Linked DNA regions of Homo sapiens. The protein of the gene in region 1 binds, or shares a complex with, the protein of each later gene. Each region holds a gene or a part of one and is shown in the gene's direction. Other genes may lie near its edges.

Region 1 (7,964 bases):
TGCCTCTGGAATATAGGATTCAAAGTCATGATTTGAAACAAAAGGTTATCAGTACCTGAATAAATAATCTCCATTTCAACAGCTCAGCTGTTAAGTTCTACTTATATAACTCAGCCAATGCATAAGGGAAGAAATGATTTATTCCAGACAGAGAGAAAACATCACTAAAATAAAGCTAGTACAGGGCTAAACACTTCAGTGGTCCCTCCCTTCCCACCTCCTACCATTCTAAAACACTTAAGAGTTCTCTAAATAGATCAAGCACCCTTCTTCCTCCATGCTTGGATATACACTGCAATCTTTAACCACATTCCTCATCTGGCTTTTACTTCTCATTCTGGAAACACCTTCTACGATGGAAAGCCTTCCCATAGGTGAAACTCCTGGTTCAATATTCCTCTTCCCTATTCCTTTAGCGTTTACTAATATTACTCATATCGCAGCAACTGTCAAAAAGAAATTATTGGCCAAGTGCCACGACTCACAGCTATAATCTGAGCTCTTTGGGAAGCCAAGACAGGAGAGGCACTGAGGAGTTTGAGACCACCCTGGACATCATAGTGAAATCTCATCTCTACAAAAAAAAAAAAAAACACTTAAAAATCTGCCAGGCATGGTGGCATGAGCCTATAGGCCTAGCTACTCAGGAGGCTGAGGCAGGAAAATCACTTCAGCACGGGAGTTTGAAGTTACAACGAGATATGATAGCACTACTGCACTCCAGCTTAGTAAACAGAGACCCTGTCTCTATAAAATAAATTATTGTTTCGCTTATCTAGTCACCTACAAGTTTCTTAGGGGTGGGGAAGCTCTCATCACTGTGACTATATCATCTTATATAATATATGGTACTTATGGGCCGGGCGCGGTGGCTCACGCCTGTAATCCCCACACTTTGGGAGGCCAAGGCAGCTGGATCACCTGAGGTCAGGAGTTCAAGAAAAGCCTGGACAACATGGTGAAACTCCATCTCTACTAAAAATACAAAAAATTAGCCGGACGAGATTGCACCATTGCACTCCAGCCTGAGAAACAAGAGTGAAACTCTGTCTCAAAAAAAAAAAAAAAGAAAAAAGAAAAGAAAAACCATAACCTATAGTACTTAGGAAGTGTTCAATAAATGCTGAAGGAATGAACGAATGAGGAAAAAGTCTTCAGTTTGTTCATCTGTACAAATGAATGAGTTGATATCTAAGGTCTTCCCCCTTCCCCTTCGTGTTCTATTAAAATGAAGGATCAATGTATAATACTTGGATTCATGTGTGGTGTAGAATAGAATAATTTCTTTTTGTTGTTGTTGTTGTTTTTTCTTTTTGGTAGACAGGGTCTCACTCTGTTGCCCAGGCTACAGAGCAGTAATGTGATCATGGCTCAATGCAGCCTCAACCTCCAGGGCTCAAGCAATCCTCCCACCTCAGCCTCCCAAGTAGCTGGGACTACAGGCACATGCCACCACACCCAGTTAATTTTTGTATTTTTTGTGTAGAGGTGAGGTTTCGCTATGATGTATTTTTTGTATAGATGGGGTTTTGCCATGTTGCCCAGGCTGGTCTCAAACTCCTGGGCTCAAGCAATCCACCTGCCTCAACCTCCCAAAGTGCTGGGATTACAGGTGTGAGCCACCATGCCCAGCTGAACAATTTCTAAATAATATCGTAAGTTACTACTACTATACAAATTTTACTTTATACATCATTTTGATATTTAAGCTTAAGGACAGTAAATTGTTGTTACACTGTTTATTATGATTAGAGAAATTTCTCTTCACAAAGCATTAAGTGGTCATTAACAACCCTAATTTTAATAGAAGGTAACACATGATCTTCCATAAAGAACTACAGGTAGTCGATAACTTTTGATAAATGAATACTAAAGAAATTTTTACGTTTTGATGCCTAAATGGTACCTCCTGTTTTACAGATACTCTCTAAGAAAAATTTCAACCCAGAATAGAATGACTATTAAAGGACGTATGTGTAAGGTCCATTCTTCAGCTTCTGGCCCAAATCTACTTACAATCTCAAATCGAGTTATTTTTTTTAAGTCATCTCCGCAATGAAGATGTGCAAAAGTGAGATGTAGCTACGGAATGATTATTTTCTTTTAGCCTCTCCAGGCAATGATGTCCAACACATTGGTAAACCATTTTAAATAAAATAATAAGGTATTTTTATGAAGACTTGGCTCAGAATTAACTGGGAAGCCTATCACTTTCCTAACTGCAACCATTGCTCGTACTAACAGAGGACTAAGCTACCCAAACTATTTAAACTATACATATTTATTTGGAAAAGTTTTATTTGATTACAACAAAGTTGAGTAATTTAGATACATTAATTATGTACGTTAATGATTAAATTCCTTGATAATTAGGTAGAAACAATTGTATATAGTAATTATTCCAACTTTACTCTCAAAAGCAAAATATAATAAAATAATGTAATCTTTGCTATTTTTAAAAAAGCCAAAATAATCTTCAAGTTTTTCCTTTTCACTCTGATAGCATTCTCTATCAGTAACTTGCATTAATGTTGTAGCTTTGAGGTGCCGCATATCATTTCATATCACTGGCACACAATAGTGTATCAAGAGAAATCAGCTCTGAATCTTACTCTATAACAATGTGCAATTGCCTTGGTCTTGGATCCTTTAAGAAATAGCAAAGGGAAAACTCAAAAAAGTCCTTTCAATAAAGCAGAGGCTAGATTTGCTCAATGACCTGACCAACCAGGAAGTAATAGAAGTTTTGCTATCCTGTTTAAAAAATAATAATAAACAATAACAGACATGAGATTTTCAAGAAATCAGGGAGGAGACTTAAAGATATCTTAATAAAAGTATTTTCTCTTCAGTGCCTTTTAAAAAATGTCATTGCATCAGGATTAGTAAGAATATCTGGATGCAAGGACACCAGGTTGCAAGTACACTAAAGAATGGTAAGGTCAGAGAAGTGTTTTTTCTGCCTTTAAAGTTCCTGAAAATAGAGGCTGGGCGTGATGACTCACACCTGTAATCCCAGCATTTTGGGAGGCCGAGGCGGGCGGATTGCCTGAGGTCAGGAGTTCGAGACCAGCCTGACCAACATGGTGAAACCCTGTCTCTACTAAAAATACAAAAATTAGCTGGGCGAGGTAGCGCGCGCCTGTAATCCCAGCCACTCAGGAGGCTGAGGCAGGAGAATGGCTTGAACCTGGGAGGCATAGGTTGCAGTGAGCCCGAGATCCCGCCACTGCACTCCAGCCTGGGCGACAGAGCGAGACTCCATCTCAAAAAAAAGAAAAGGAAACAGAAAAGTTCCTGAAAATATAAAGTTGTTTAGACATACAGCAGGTATATCGTTTCAAAACCAAATACACTAAAGCAGATGAGAACACAACCGTGACCAAGTGGTTCGGAGAAAGATGGATTTTAATGCAAAGTTGTTTTGTTTTCACGCATAACGTACTTCTCGCTGTGCTTGAGTGCAGAAAGGTGTGGTTCTTCCTAAGGTTGATTACATAAAGCAAGATTCCAAAAACAAGAAAAGTGCTTTGCAAACACAGTAACTAGGACTGGCTGAAGCTTCCTGCGTCCAGTGCCATGCTCAAAGATCAGAACAAGCAACTTTATCCACCACTTTAATAAGATGATTCAAAAAAGCTGCAGTCTTCTGAAGAAAGCCATGGTTGAAAACTTGCTCCGCTTCTTGGAGAAAGCCTAAAGCCCTAAAGGTCTCTAATTATTCTCCAAAGTCTACAACCCAAGCTGCATTTTATGCATTTATTAGGTTACAAAACCACGGGAACTCTTCACTCAAAAGCAAAAACACATCCGGAAAGAGGAAAAAATCCACGGCCAATGTAAACCCCCTACAACACCAACCGCCCACGTCGTACCCCAGGCTGCAATGAGGCCGGCACTCACCCACCGCTCGCCCGGGAAGCCCAGACCCAGGTGTTTCAAAATCAGAAGTACGGCAGGCTCGTTCGCTCTCACGGGCAAGAATCTTAAACCCCAACTTCAGAGATACCCGCGCACGCTGGGCGCTGCCATTTTGACAGAAAGCGGGCCTGCCCCAGAGGCCCCTACGCAGGTCGCCCTGAGCAGAGCCGGAGTGCCACAGAACCCCTAGCTCATCACCTCCACACCCAGACGTCGCATCCCCCGGCCTGAGGAATGCCAAGAAACCCCACCCTGCCGACCAGGATCAGGCGAAATCAAGTCACCCTTGAAATCCCGCAAACTCTCTCAGGCAGCGCCGAGGGCGACCGCAGCCGGCGTGGGAGGGGCATCGGCGGTCAGGGGCGGGGCGTCGGTGCGGCGGCCTTCGGTAACCCGGGCAACGCGGCCTCCTGGATGTAGGAAGGGGCGCTGCCCCCGAAACACAAATGTCTCCGCCAAGACCCCAGACGGTTCCCAAAGGCTCTCCGTGATGCAACTGCACGTCCCTCGAATGCCTGGGCCTCCGATATCCGTCCGCCAGGAGCTTGGCTGGATGCACGGGCGGCCAGTCCTCTTATTTCCCCGCCCTCCCGCCGCGTGGAGCGGCTGCTGGGTCCCGAGCCTCCGGGCGGGGGCGGGATCGGGGCGGGGCGGAGGCATCTCCCTCCCAGCACCGCCCCCTTAGCTGCCCCGAGCCCTGCCTGCGCCCGCCCCCGAAGCGGCGCGGGACGCCTGGCGCCGTCCGCGATCCGCAGGGCTGCCCGCTTAGGCTTAGGCCCGGCCCGCTGGCAAAGCCGAGCCGCAGCATTTTATTTCGTTCGTGGTTTCCGCACAGGCTGGAGTTTCGTGGGTTGGGTCGTACTTGGGACCTCGGCGAAGAGGACCCGTTTATTTTTTTTTCTTTCCAAAATGGCAGCCTCCAGTCGCGCACAAGTGTTATCTCTGTACCGGGCGATGCTGAGAGAGAGCAAGCGTTTCAGCGCCTACAATTACAGGTGACCCAGCGGGCACCGGGGGCCGGGGGCGGGGGGCCAGGGGCCGGGGACCGGGGGTGCGGGCTGACGCGGAATATCCCCGGGGACTGGGAGCCACCGTGGTTTGCCGGCGGCTGCGAGGCAAGGACCGGGCTCCGCCATCGAAAAGCGTGCTCCTGCCTACAGGTGTGGCCTCTGAGACCTCGGGGAGGAGCCTTTCTTTCTACCAGGGGAGACGTTCATGTCTTGTGACGTTTTCCCCCTAAAGGCTATCTTGGTAGTTATTCTAGGAGCATGATTAGTGTTATGTTTCTGCAGAAGAGAAAAAAGGGATGGAAATCAGTCATTTGTGAAGTTAAGGCCAGTGTGTTGCATATGTAAAACTTCCCTTGAGCACTGGAAGAGTTGAGAGTGGAAGTGGCCAGTGAGTAGTACACTGCGACAAAGCTGAAGGCACACTCTAGCACCTCCCTAAAATTTCCTAGGTGTCGTAATGAGTTCTTTTGGTTGCAAGAATCCATTCTATTTAGGGTATGGTGGAAATGCGTAGCGGAAAAGGAAAAAGGGTCTCACAAGCTTTGGAGCTGAAACCTCAGTTTCTCCTGGCTCACCAGACAGAGATCCCGCTTACTGGACCTTGACAGCAGGATATTGAGGGCCTAAACTCACATCTTTAATATAACACATTCACTTTTTCTCACGCCTCCCCACTCCCCTATTTGCCTATGAGTCTTTTATTGTTACTCTTTGTATGTTTTTTCTAATTCAGAGCCTCTGCTTTCACAGTGTTGCTGGTTCTGACCCATCATTTTCTTATGGATTCTCTCTCTGCATTTTTTTTTAGATTTGTTTTTTGTTTTGTTTTGTTTTTACTAACTACCTGTCTCTCTCTGAGTTTGAGCCATATTCCCATGAGAAAGAATCTGGTTGGATCAACTCATCTCTTTACCTCAAGCCTCACTTAGGTGACTGGCCAGACTGTGGATTGGATGTCATAAGAGCAGAGCCTACCCTTGGAACACACCTGGTTAGGTAGGCCCCCCTCCAGCACGTGTGTGAGCTGGCAGGCCCTGAGATGGGTCTGCCCAGTACAACCTCTGTCAGAGGACAGGAACGCTAAGCCTCTTAAGCAATGACTCTCAAATTTTTAGAAACCCGCCTGGAAAATATACTCATGCTGCAAATTTGAAAACAGCATCTGGGTCATACCACTGAGGTTGTATCCACCCAGTTAAGTGGTTAAATTTCACGGGAGAGAATGATTTTACTTAATGACTTTGACTTTGGAGAATAAAGAGTGTAATAATAAGCATACTGGTGGAATTTTAGCAAGAATTAACCAAACACCTAGCACCAAGTACTTAACCAAGTCTGTTGAGGAAACACATGAAATATGCAAGTTAAATAAATAGAAACCATTTGATTTCACCATAGTCTGGAGTAAAATAGTTTGTCATTAAAGCTTACTCAGGATACACAAGGACTTGGAATCAGCAGGCAGTTCACACACTAAGGAAAGTGGCAGGGAGAGGGTTTATGTGAGAGCATGTAAGAAAGTCAAGGTGGAGCCCTCGAAGACTAACTTGGACAAGTCTCTCAATCTCTGTATTTCAGTTTTCTTGTTTATGAAATAGACTGTTGGACTAGACAATCTCTAAGGACCCTTCCATTTCTGAAATTCTCTTTGGAAATGATTTATGAGCAAATGAGGCCCAAGCGTTTTCAAATGAGTAATTGCCAACTGAACAGGAAAATCATTCACGAAACTCAACAGGAAAATCATTCAAACTTTAGGAAAATCATTCAAGACTCTACCTGAAAGGCAGAAAATTGAAAATGGGTTTCAGTATGGGCAACTGTAAGATCATATGCATTCAGAAAATAATTGATCAAATTATACCTTAAGCATATACTTTTAAGCTAAATTTACTATCCAAATATAAATATATTATCCAAAGGAATCTGATAATCATTTTATACTGTTACCTGAGATCATAGACCTAAAAACCGACATTCCTGCTATTACCTCCCTAGATAAACTTACTTGTTATAAAAATACGTCCTTTTACATTAAGGCTGTGTCTTGTGAATTTCAGGAAAAGTCCCTTCCCTCCTCTCTAATCTCTGCAGCTGTTTGTCACTGATGGCAAATCAATAGCAACACAACATCCACTATCAATTCTGTGTGCCACTGCTATCTTATGTTCTTCATGTCTATTAACACATTTGTTTTGACAATAATCTTGTGAGGTAGGTACTATTTGTATTACCCTGTAAGGCAACTGAGGCACAGGGAGCTTAAGTTACCTATCAAAACTAACACAGGTAGTGCTGAATAAGCAATCAAAAGCAGACTAGTAAACGTTTTTTAATGACCTGCGAATTGTGCCTTAAGTAATTAGAGTAGTGAAATAAATACTTTGGAACTCTCTTGCAAGACCTATAATATAGGCCACGTTTTGATAGCAGGAGCCCTGTCTGCTCCTCCAGTCTCAGCCTAAGTCCCACATGTGCATCCTGTCCTCTGTCATCATCAGTTGCAGTTTCCTAAATGTGCCACGTCCTGTTGGGCCTCCAGGCCTTTACAAGTACTGTTCTATCCAGCAGGCCCTTTATCACTCCTGTCTAGAGTGCCCCCTCTTCCTTCAAGATTGAGCTCAATTGTCACCTTCTCTGAACAAAAGTTTTCCCAACTCTCTTCATCCCACAGCTTCCACTCCCATCCCTCCCACCAGCCAAACAGGTCTCATTGCTGTGTGTCATTCTTTTACCTCAGTGCTTCTACAAAACATCTCTGAAGCATGCTTTGCCCAGTGCTATATCACAGCTATCCCCAACCTTCTTGGCACCAGGAACCAATTTCATGGAAGACAGTTTTTCCATGGACCGGGTCAAGGGAGGGGATGGTTTCGGGATGAAACTCTTCCACCTCAGATCATCAGGCATTAGATTCTCATAAGGAGCATGCAACCTAGATCACTCACATGCACAGTTCACAATAGGTGCACCTATGAGAATCTAATGCCGCCGCTGATCTGACAGGAGATGGAGCTCAGGCCATAATGCGCA
Region 2 (8,029 bases), on another chromosome or scaffold:
CTGAGGCAGGAGAATCGCTTGAACCTGGGAGGCAGACATTGCAGTGAGCAGAGATTGCACCACTGCACTCCAGCCTGGGCAACAGAGCGAGACTCTAATTAAAAAAAAAGGAAGCTAAAAAAAAAAAAATTTAAGGGATATGTTCCAGGTGCTATTATGGAAGCTCAAGGCTGAGCAGTTTGGACAACCCAGGAGTCCCAGAAAAACTTCATGGGAGATGGCAATTTAGCTGAGCCTTGCGGGATAAGTAGGTCAAAGCAGAAGCAACGGATATTCTGGGCAGAAAGGACAGCCTGGCCAAAATGGTGAAACCCAGTCTCTACTAAAAATACAAAAATTAGCCGGGAGTGGTGGCAGGCGCCTATAGTCTCAGCTACTCGGGAGGTTGAGGCAGAGAATCGCTTGAACCCAGGAGGCAGAGGTTGCAGTGAGCCAAGATCGCACCATTGCACTCCAGCCTGGGCGACAGAGCGAGACTCTGTCTCAAACAATGACAAAAAGAAAAAGTGTAACTGTAGGGGTGGGTTGCCCCTCCACACCTGTGGGTGTTTCTCGTAAGGTGGAATGAGAGACTTAGGAAAGAAAAAGACACAGAGACAAAGTATAGAGAAAGAAATAAGGGGACCCGGGGAACCAGCGTTCAGCATATGGAGGATCCCGCCAGCCTCTGAGTTCCCTTAGTATTTATTTATCATTCATGGGTGTTTCTCGAAGAGGGGGATGTGTCAGGGTCACAAGACAATTGTGGGGAGAGGGTCAGCAGACAAACACGTGAACAAAGGTCTTTGCATCATAGACAATGTAAAGGATTAAGTGCTGTGCTTTTAGATATGCATACACATAAACATCTCAATGCTTTACAAAGCAGTATTGCTGCCCGCAGGTCCCACCTCCAGCCCTAAGGCGGTTTTTCCCTATCTCAGTAGATGGAGCATACAATCGGGTTTTATACCGAGACATTCCATTGCCCAGGGACAGGCAGGAGACAGATGCCTTCCTCTTGTCTCAACTGCAAGAGGCATTCCTTCCTCTTTTACTAATCCTCCTCAGCACAGACCCTTTACGGGTGTCGGGCTGGGGGACGGTCAGGTCTTTCCCTTCCCACGAGGCCATATTTCAGACTATCACATGGGGAGAAACCTTGGACAATACCTGGCTTTCCTAGGCAGAGGTCCCTGTGGCCTTCCGCAGTTTTTGTGTCCCTGGGTACTTGAGATTAGGGAGTAGTGATGACTCTTAAGGAGCATGCTGCCTTCAAGCATCTGTTTAACAAAGCACATCTTGCACCGCCCTTAATCCATTCAACTCTGAGTTGACACAGCACATGTTTCAGAGAGCACGGGGTTGGGGGTAAGGTCACAGAATCTCAAGGCAGAAGAATTTTTCTTAGTACATAACAAAATGGAGTCTCCTATGTCTACTTCTTTCTACACAGACACAGTAACAATCTGATCTCTCTTGCTTTTCCCCACATGTAACAGCTTGTCTATGAAAGGTAGGAGGAATGGTATTAGAGATCTATAAAGGGTCAGCGGAGGGTCCTCTTACTTTGTTTTTAGGCTAAGAGGAACTTTGATGTGTTTATGGGTTCAGGAGAAAGAGCCAGAAGAGAGACCTTTGAGATGTAGGGAAGAAGAGCTAACTGGTGGTATAAGGTCCCATTGGGAATAAGAGGGGATGAGACTACCGTGCAAATGGGCTGGCAGAGGGAGCGATCATGGTGGGTTGGTGGGATAGTTTGTGCTGGGAAGCTGACAGCTTTTATGCTTATCCATCCTTTGATGGGAATGTTACTGAAAAGCACCGGTGTTGTCTTTTAACTCTTCCTCATCTGCTAAGGATGTGATCTTAATATTGGGACTTTTACCCTACAGGCCATGTAGGCTGATATTTTGTCTTTATTTGTTTGCTGAAGGGAAAAGTAGCTCTCCCAAATTATTTAAATAAGAGATGATTTGTTATGTTTTACCAAAAGGATTAAATGTAACACTGAGGCCGGGTGCAGTGGCTCACGCCTGTAATCCCAGCACTTTGGGAGGCCGAGGCGGGCAGATCATGAGGTCAGGAGTTTGAGACCACCCTGGCTAACACGGTGAAACCCCATCTCTATAAATACATACATACATACATATATACATACATACGTGTAACACTGAAAGACTAGATAGGTCATGGGAAGAGATGGCCCCAATTGTGAACTTAGTAGGATTAGGTTCTTCCTAAGCTAAGAGCTACATTTTTTTGGGAAACAGAGTCTCACTCTGTTGCCCAGGCTGGAGTGTAGTGGTGTGATCATAGCTCACTGCAGCCTTGACCTCCTGGGCTCAATTGGTCCTCCCACCTCAGCTTCCCAAGCAGCTGGGACCACAGACATGCATCACCATGCCTGGCTAATTTTTTAAATTTTTTATGGAGACAAGGTCTCCCTGTGTTGCCTAGGTTGATCTCAAACTCCTGGGCTCAAGCGATCCACCTCCCTTGGCCTCCCAAAGTGCTGGGATTACGGAGGTGAGCCACTGAACCAGGCTTGCCTGTCTGGCTTGCTCACAGTTGCAGCCTCAACAATTAGTACGTAACAGATACTCAATTTTTTTTTGAGACTTTTTTGAGATGGAGCTTCACTCTTGTTGCCCAGGCTAGAGTGCAATGGCGCGATCTCAGCTCCCTGCAACCTCTACCTCCCGGGTTCAAGCAATTCTCCTGTCTCAGCTTCCTGCCTCCTGAGTAGCTGGGATTACAGTCACCTGCCACCACACCCAGCTAATTTTTGTATTTTTAGTAGAGACGGGGTTTCACCATGTTGTCCAGGTTGGTCTCAAACTCCTGACATCAGGTGATCCACCTGCCTCAGCCTCCCAAAATGCTGGGATTACAGGTTTGACCCACCATGCCTGGCCCCCAGACACTCGAGTTTTAAAGGAATGCTATAATAAATAGAAATTATTTTACAACAGTGGGATGAAACTATGTTTTTTTTGTTTTCGTTTTTTTTTTTTGAGATGGAGTCTTGCTCTTTTGCCAGCCTGGAGTGCAGTGGCGCAATCTCGGCTCACTGCAACCTCTGCCTCCCAAGTTCAAGCGATTCTCCTGCCTCAGCCTCCTGAGTATCTGGGACTACAGGCGCGCACCACCACACCCAACTAATTTTTGTATTTTTAGTAGAAATGGGGTTTCACCATGTTGACCAGGATTGTCTCGATCTCTTGACCTCGTGATCCACCCACCTTGGCCTCCCAAAGTGCTGGGATTACAGGTATGAGCCACCGCGCCTGGCAGCATACCATTACATTTTATTTTACTTGGATTTAACAAAAATAAAAAGAAATTGAGGTAAAACTGGTGACATTATTGGATCATTCATTCAGGCAGATTTCAGAATTTGGAGTCATTATCCCGTGTGTTTCCATTTCAGTCAATATCCTTTAGCTCCCTGCTTAGAAATAGGAATTAGCCTTCTTAAACTCCTCCCTCGCTTACCTATTTTTGTTAGCTATTGTAAGGAACATGGCTGTGCTTTGGTCAAGGATAGGCCAAGGTAAGATGTTTACATCCTGCGTGACTCAGCAAGTTTAGACAGAGGCGTATAACTCCACTTGTTATCACAGCCATGTAGGCATAACATGGGAAGGTCATCACTTGGCTCTAAGCCACTATTTTCTGTAAAAGGTATAATTGCCCTGCTGATACTGTACAGGCGTTCGTGCCCAGAGAAAGAGAGAGCCAGAGCTGTCAGTCTTTGCAGACAGACAGGGGGAGCCAGATCACAGCTGAGAGAGAGTTAAGCTGCTGACCCTGAAGGCAAGGGAGAGCCAGCCTCGCAGTTGTGTGGGGGAGCCATGGGACTAAGCAGCTGAGACAAGGCAGACAGTGTGAGAGAACTAGTGTAAGTAAGCTGCTGATGAGAGCTGCTGCTGAATAAAATCATCTTTCACCTGCCTACCGTCCCCTGAGTGTTCTTTCAGCTATCTGTTCATCCACCCACTCCCCTCAGACCTCGATATGGGCTGGAACCTGGCTGTGGGCATGACAGTTGGCATAGTCGTGGACCTGACAGCTATATTATACACTGTCAAGTTTTAAAACATGTATATTGTTTTAATCGTAATTCTCACATTTATTAGTCTTAGGTATTGAAATTGATTATTTTTTCACATTATTATATATATTTTTTTACCTATTCAATAAATGTTAATACTTGTGGAAGAATTGTGGAATCAAAACTTTGTCCTTTTTTTCTTTTAATCTTTTTTGTAATAGAGACGGAGTCTTGCCGTGTTGGCCAGGTTGGTCTTGAACTCCTGAGCTCAAACAGTCCTGCCACCTTGGCCTCCCAAAGTGCTAGGATTAAAGGCGTCAGCCACCGCACCCGGCCCCAAACGTTTAAACAGATGTATTTCAGAACTTTCAGATAAAAAATGAAAGTAGGTTTCTCGTGCCGTGTCGTTTAGGGAAAGACGGCGACGTCTGCACAGTTTAGTTGTGACACCAAGCAGTTGTTCGTCCCCGAACCTGGATGGGCTCCGAGGGCGCAGTGCCTCCAGGAGCCGCCAGGGGCCGCCACCGCCGGCGGTGCCCGACAGCGCTGCCGTGTGCGTCGCCTGCGCGCCGCCGGAAAGGAACCCTGGTCCGGAGGCGGCGGCGCAGTGCATCCTGGGTTGGCGTAGCCATGGCGTCTCGTGTCCTTTCAGCCTATGTCAGCCGCCTGCCCGCGGCCTTTGCGCCGCTGCCCCGGGTCCGGATGCTGGCCGTGGCCCGGCCTCTCAGCACCGCTCTCTGCTCCGCGGGGACCCAGACGAGGCTCGGGACTTTGCAGCCGGCCTTAGTGCTCGCGCAGGTGACTCGTGGTGACTTTGCTGCCGCTTGGCAAGGGTCAGGGATTGGGCCCGGTGGGGGTGGGGGCCGGGCATCCGGGGCGCGCCAGCTGCAGGCAGGGGTGACCCGGGGGGCAGCCGGCTCGCTCCGCAGCCCCGCTGCCTAAAGGTGTTTAGTTGACCCCTGACGGGAGGCCGGGTGACCTCGTAATAACGAGCAAGAGCACTGACTCGAGTCCAGCACTGCTGGGCTGCCGCTTACCGAAACTTTGGACAAGTCTCCTAGCCTGGCTCACACTCACCTGCAAAATTGGGATCCTGGTCTCTACCTTGCGGAGTAGCAATGAGGATTAGATGAGTTAATGCGGCTAGAGCACCTCGTACGGTCTCAAAATAGCGGTCACCGTATTGTAGTGAAAGCAGCATGCAAAGAGGCAGCCACACTGGCCTACAGCCTTCTCCAGAGCGGTTTTCTCTCTGCAGTTCTGTCCTTACTCTTCCCTGCAGCACCTTCTGCCTGTGTCCAGGACTCCTGGAAGTAATTCTAGGAAACAAGCCAAGTGACCTTTGACCAATAAGGATTTGAATTGCGCGGGTCCACTTATATGCGGATTTTTTTTCAACCAAACGCGACCAGTATTTACGGGATGTGCCGCCCCGCGTATAAGGAGGGCAGGCTCTTCCTATAAGCGGATTCTGCAAGGCTGACTGCGGGACGTGAGTGTGCGGGGATTTGGGTATAGTCGGGGGTCCTGGAACCAATCTGCGCAAATACCAAGGAACGACTGTACCTGTAGTATATAGCTTGAGCTGATGAAATCTGCGTGAGGCTGAAACGCCGGGAGGCAGTGATTTCGGTGTTGTTGTTGTTGTTTTTGAGACAGAGTCTCGCTCTGTCACCCAGGCTGTAATGCAGTGGCGTGATCTCAGCTCACTGCAACCTCCGGCTAACGGCAACCTCCGCCTCTCAGGTTCAAGCAATTCTCCTCCCTCAGCCCCCCCGAGTATTTGGGACTACAGGCGCCCGCCACCATGCCCGGCTAAGTTTTGTATTTTTAGTGGAGACGGGGTTTCATCATATTGGCCAGGTTGGTCTTGAACTCCCGACCTCGCAATCCACCCGCCTCGGCCTCCCAAAGTGCTGGGATTACAGGCGTGAACCACCGCGCCCTGCCTTTTTTTTGTTGTTTTCTAAGTTCTCCAGATGACTCTGAAGTGCAGTTGGGAATAAAAATAACCGTCTTAAGGTAGGATAGACTCCCAAGGTCAAGTTATGAAACCCCTTTTCAAAGTCATAGACTTCAGGTAATAGTGGTTTCAACCTTGACTGCATGTTAGTGTGAAAAATAAGTGTGTCTGGCCAGGCGTGGTGGCTCACGCCTGTAATCCCAGCACTTTGGGAGGCCGAGGCGGGCGAATCGCTTGAGCCCAGGAGTTTGAGACCCTCCTAGGCAACATGGTGGAACCCCGTCTCTACAAAAAATACAGAAATTAGGCCGGGCGCGGTGGCTTATGCCTGTAATCCCAGCACTTTGGGATGCCGAGGCGGGCGGATCACGAGGTCAGGCGATCGAGACCATTCTGGCTAACACAGTGAAACCCCGTCTCTACTAAACATACAAAAAATTATCCGGGCGTGGTGGCACGCGCCTGTAGTCCCAGCTACTCAGGAGGCTGAGGTGGGAGGATCGATTGAACCCAGGAGGCAGAGGTTTTAGGGAGCTGAGATGATGCCACTGCACTCCAGTCTGGGAGGCAGACCGTCTTAAATAAGCCAGCCAGCCCGTGCCAGATCGACAGAATCTAGAAGTGAGTACTAGGCGACTATTTTTAGAAGTCATCAAGTGTTTCTTTTGTGAAGCCAGTGTTGCTGTTCACTGACAGTGTAATGGATTCATTCATTGGGCACTGCCCTGTTGGCTGTATCAAAAGGTGAAAAGTGTCACCTTGAAATTAAGGGTTAAAGGCCAGGCGCGATGGCTCACGCCTGTAATCCCAGCAGTTTGGGAGGCCGAGACGGGCGGATCACGAGGTCAGGAGATGGAGACCATCCTGGCTAACACGGTGAAACCCCGTCTCTACTAAAAATACAAAATAATTAGCCGGGCGTGGTGGCGGGCGCCTGTAGTCCCAGCTACTCGGGAGGCTGAGGCAGGAGAATGGCATGAACCCGGGAGGCAGAGCTTTCAGTGAGCCGAGATCGTGCCACTGCACTCCAGCCTGGGCGACAGAGCCAGACTCCATCTCAATAAATAAATAAATAAATAAATAAATAAATAAATAAATAAATAAATAAGGGTTAAAAAGGCAGTAGTTAGAATTGATGAGTGTCTGGTTCCTAAGATTGATTTCAACATTGGGCTAAAATGTGAAGTGACTGTCTTTGTTCTTACAGCATTGATTCTCAGTTGATTGGACATACAGATCACTTAGGCTGGAATACAGATTCTGATTCAGTTCTGGGAAGGGGCCAGAGAGTTTCCACCTCCAGTGGGCTTCCAGAAGATCCTGCTGCGGGTGTTCCTTGGACCATGCTTTGAATGGCAAGGAGCTCAGAAATGTTCCACTATGGCGGCTTGGCTTGCATATATAGCAGAGGAACCATTTTATTTATATTTACAAAGTGGTTTTGACTAAGTTCATTCAAAGATATTGAGGGCCAGCTGTGTGCCAGGACTCATGCTAGCTGTTGAGAGATACAGAGATGGATACAAAAGGAAGACATTAGCTTACATCTTCATTGAACGCTTTGCAGCCCTTATGTCCAACTTGCTGGCTCCTTCTCTGCTGCTGTCTTCTTCCCTAGGCTGTTGTGACACTGTTCTCCCTTGGTTGGTTTGTCCTCCTACCTTGTTGGGACACTTTGCCTTTCAGGCTGGAGTGCAGTGGCATGATCGTGGCTCACTGCAGCCTTGACCTCCTGGACTCAAATGGTCCTCCTGCCTCAGCTTCCTGAGTAGCTGGGACTACAGGCATGAGCCACCACCCCTAATTTTTTGATGTCTGTCTTCTTTTTAGAGACGGAATCTCCTTATGTTGCCTAGGCTAGTTGTGAACTCTTGGGCTCAAGCAATCCTCCTGCCTCAGCCTCCCAAGTGCTGGGATTACAGGCATGAGCCATCACACCTGGTGTGCCTAACCCTTAAATGTTGGTGGGCTCCCGAGTTCTCTTACCACACATGCTCCCTGGACTCTTCACTCCTGGTTTCTGTTATTGC

What was found. Proteins that work in one complex are often made in the same cells at the same time.
Region 2: the proteins of LYRM4 (region 1) and NDUFAB1 are in contact, whole or in part, in a crystal structure (PDB 6ODD), measured with the Homo sapiens proteins. Residues at the interface, in NP_065141.3 of Homo sapiens: Arg6 (codon at 4,846), Leu10 (codon at 4,858), Ser11 (codon at 4,861), Tyr13 (codon at 4,867), Arg14 (codon at 4,870), Leu17 (codon at 4,879), Arg18 (codon at 4,882), Lys21 (codon at 4,891), Arg37, Phe40, Arg41, Lys44; in NP_004994.1 of Homo sapiens: Lys92, Asp111, Ser112, Leu113, Asp114, Val116, Glu117, Met120, Glu123, Asp124, Glu129, Ile130, Asp132.

The regions. Positions count from the first base shown.
Region 1 is NC_000006.12:5,257,600-5,265,563, reverse strand, and holds the start of LYRM4 (LYR motif-containing protein 4), read left to right. Parts: upstream 1-4,613; 5' UTR 4,614-4,830; coding exon 4,831-4,916; intron 4,917-7,964.
Region 2 is NC_000016.10:23,592,928-23,600,956, reverse strand, and holds the start of NDUFAB1 (acyl carrier protein, mitochondrial precursor), read left to right. Parts: upstream 1-4,640; 5' UTR 4,641-4,666; coding exon 4,667-4,834; coding exon of another isoform or gene 4,835-4,869; intron 4,870-8,029. UniProt on the Homo sapiens protein: Carrier of the growing fatty acid chain in fatty acid biosynthesis.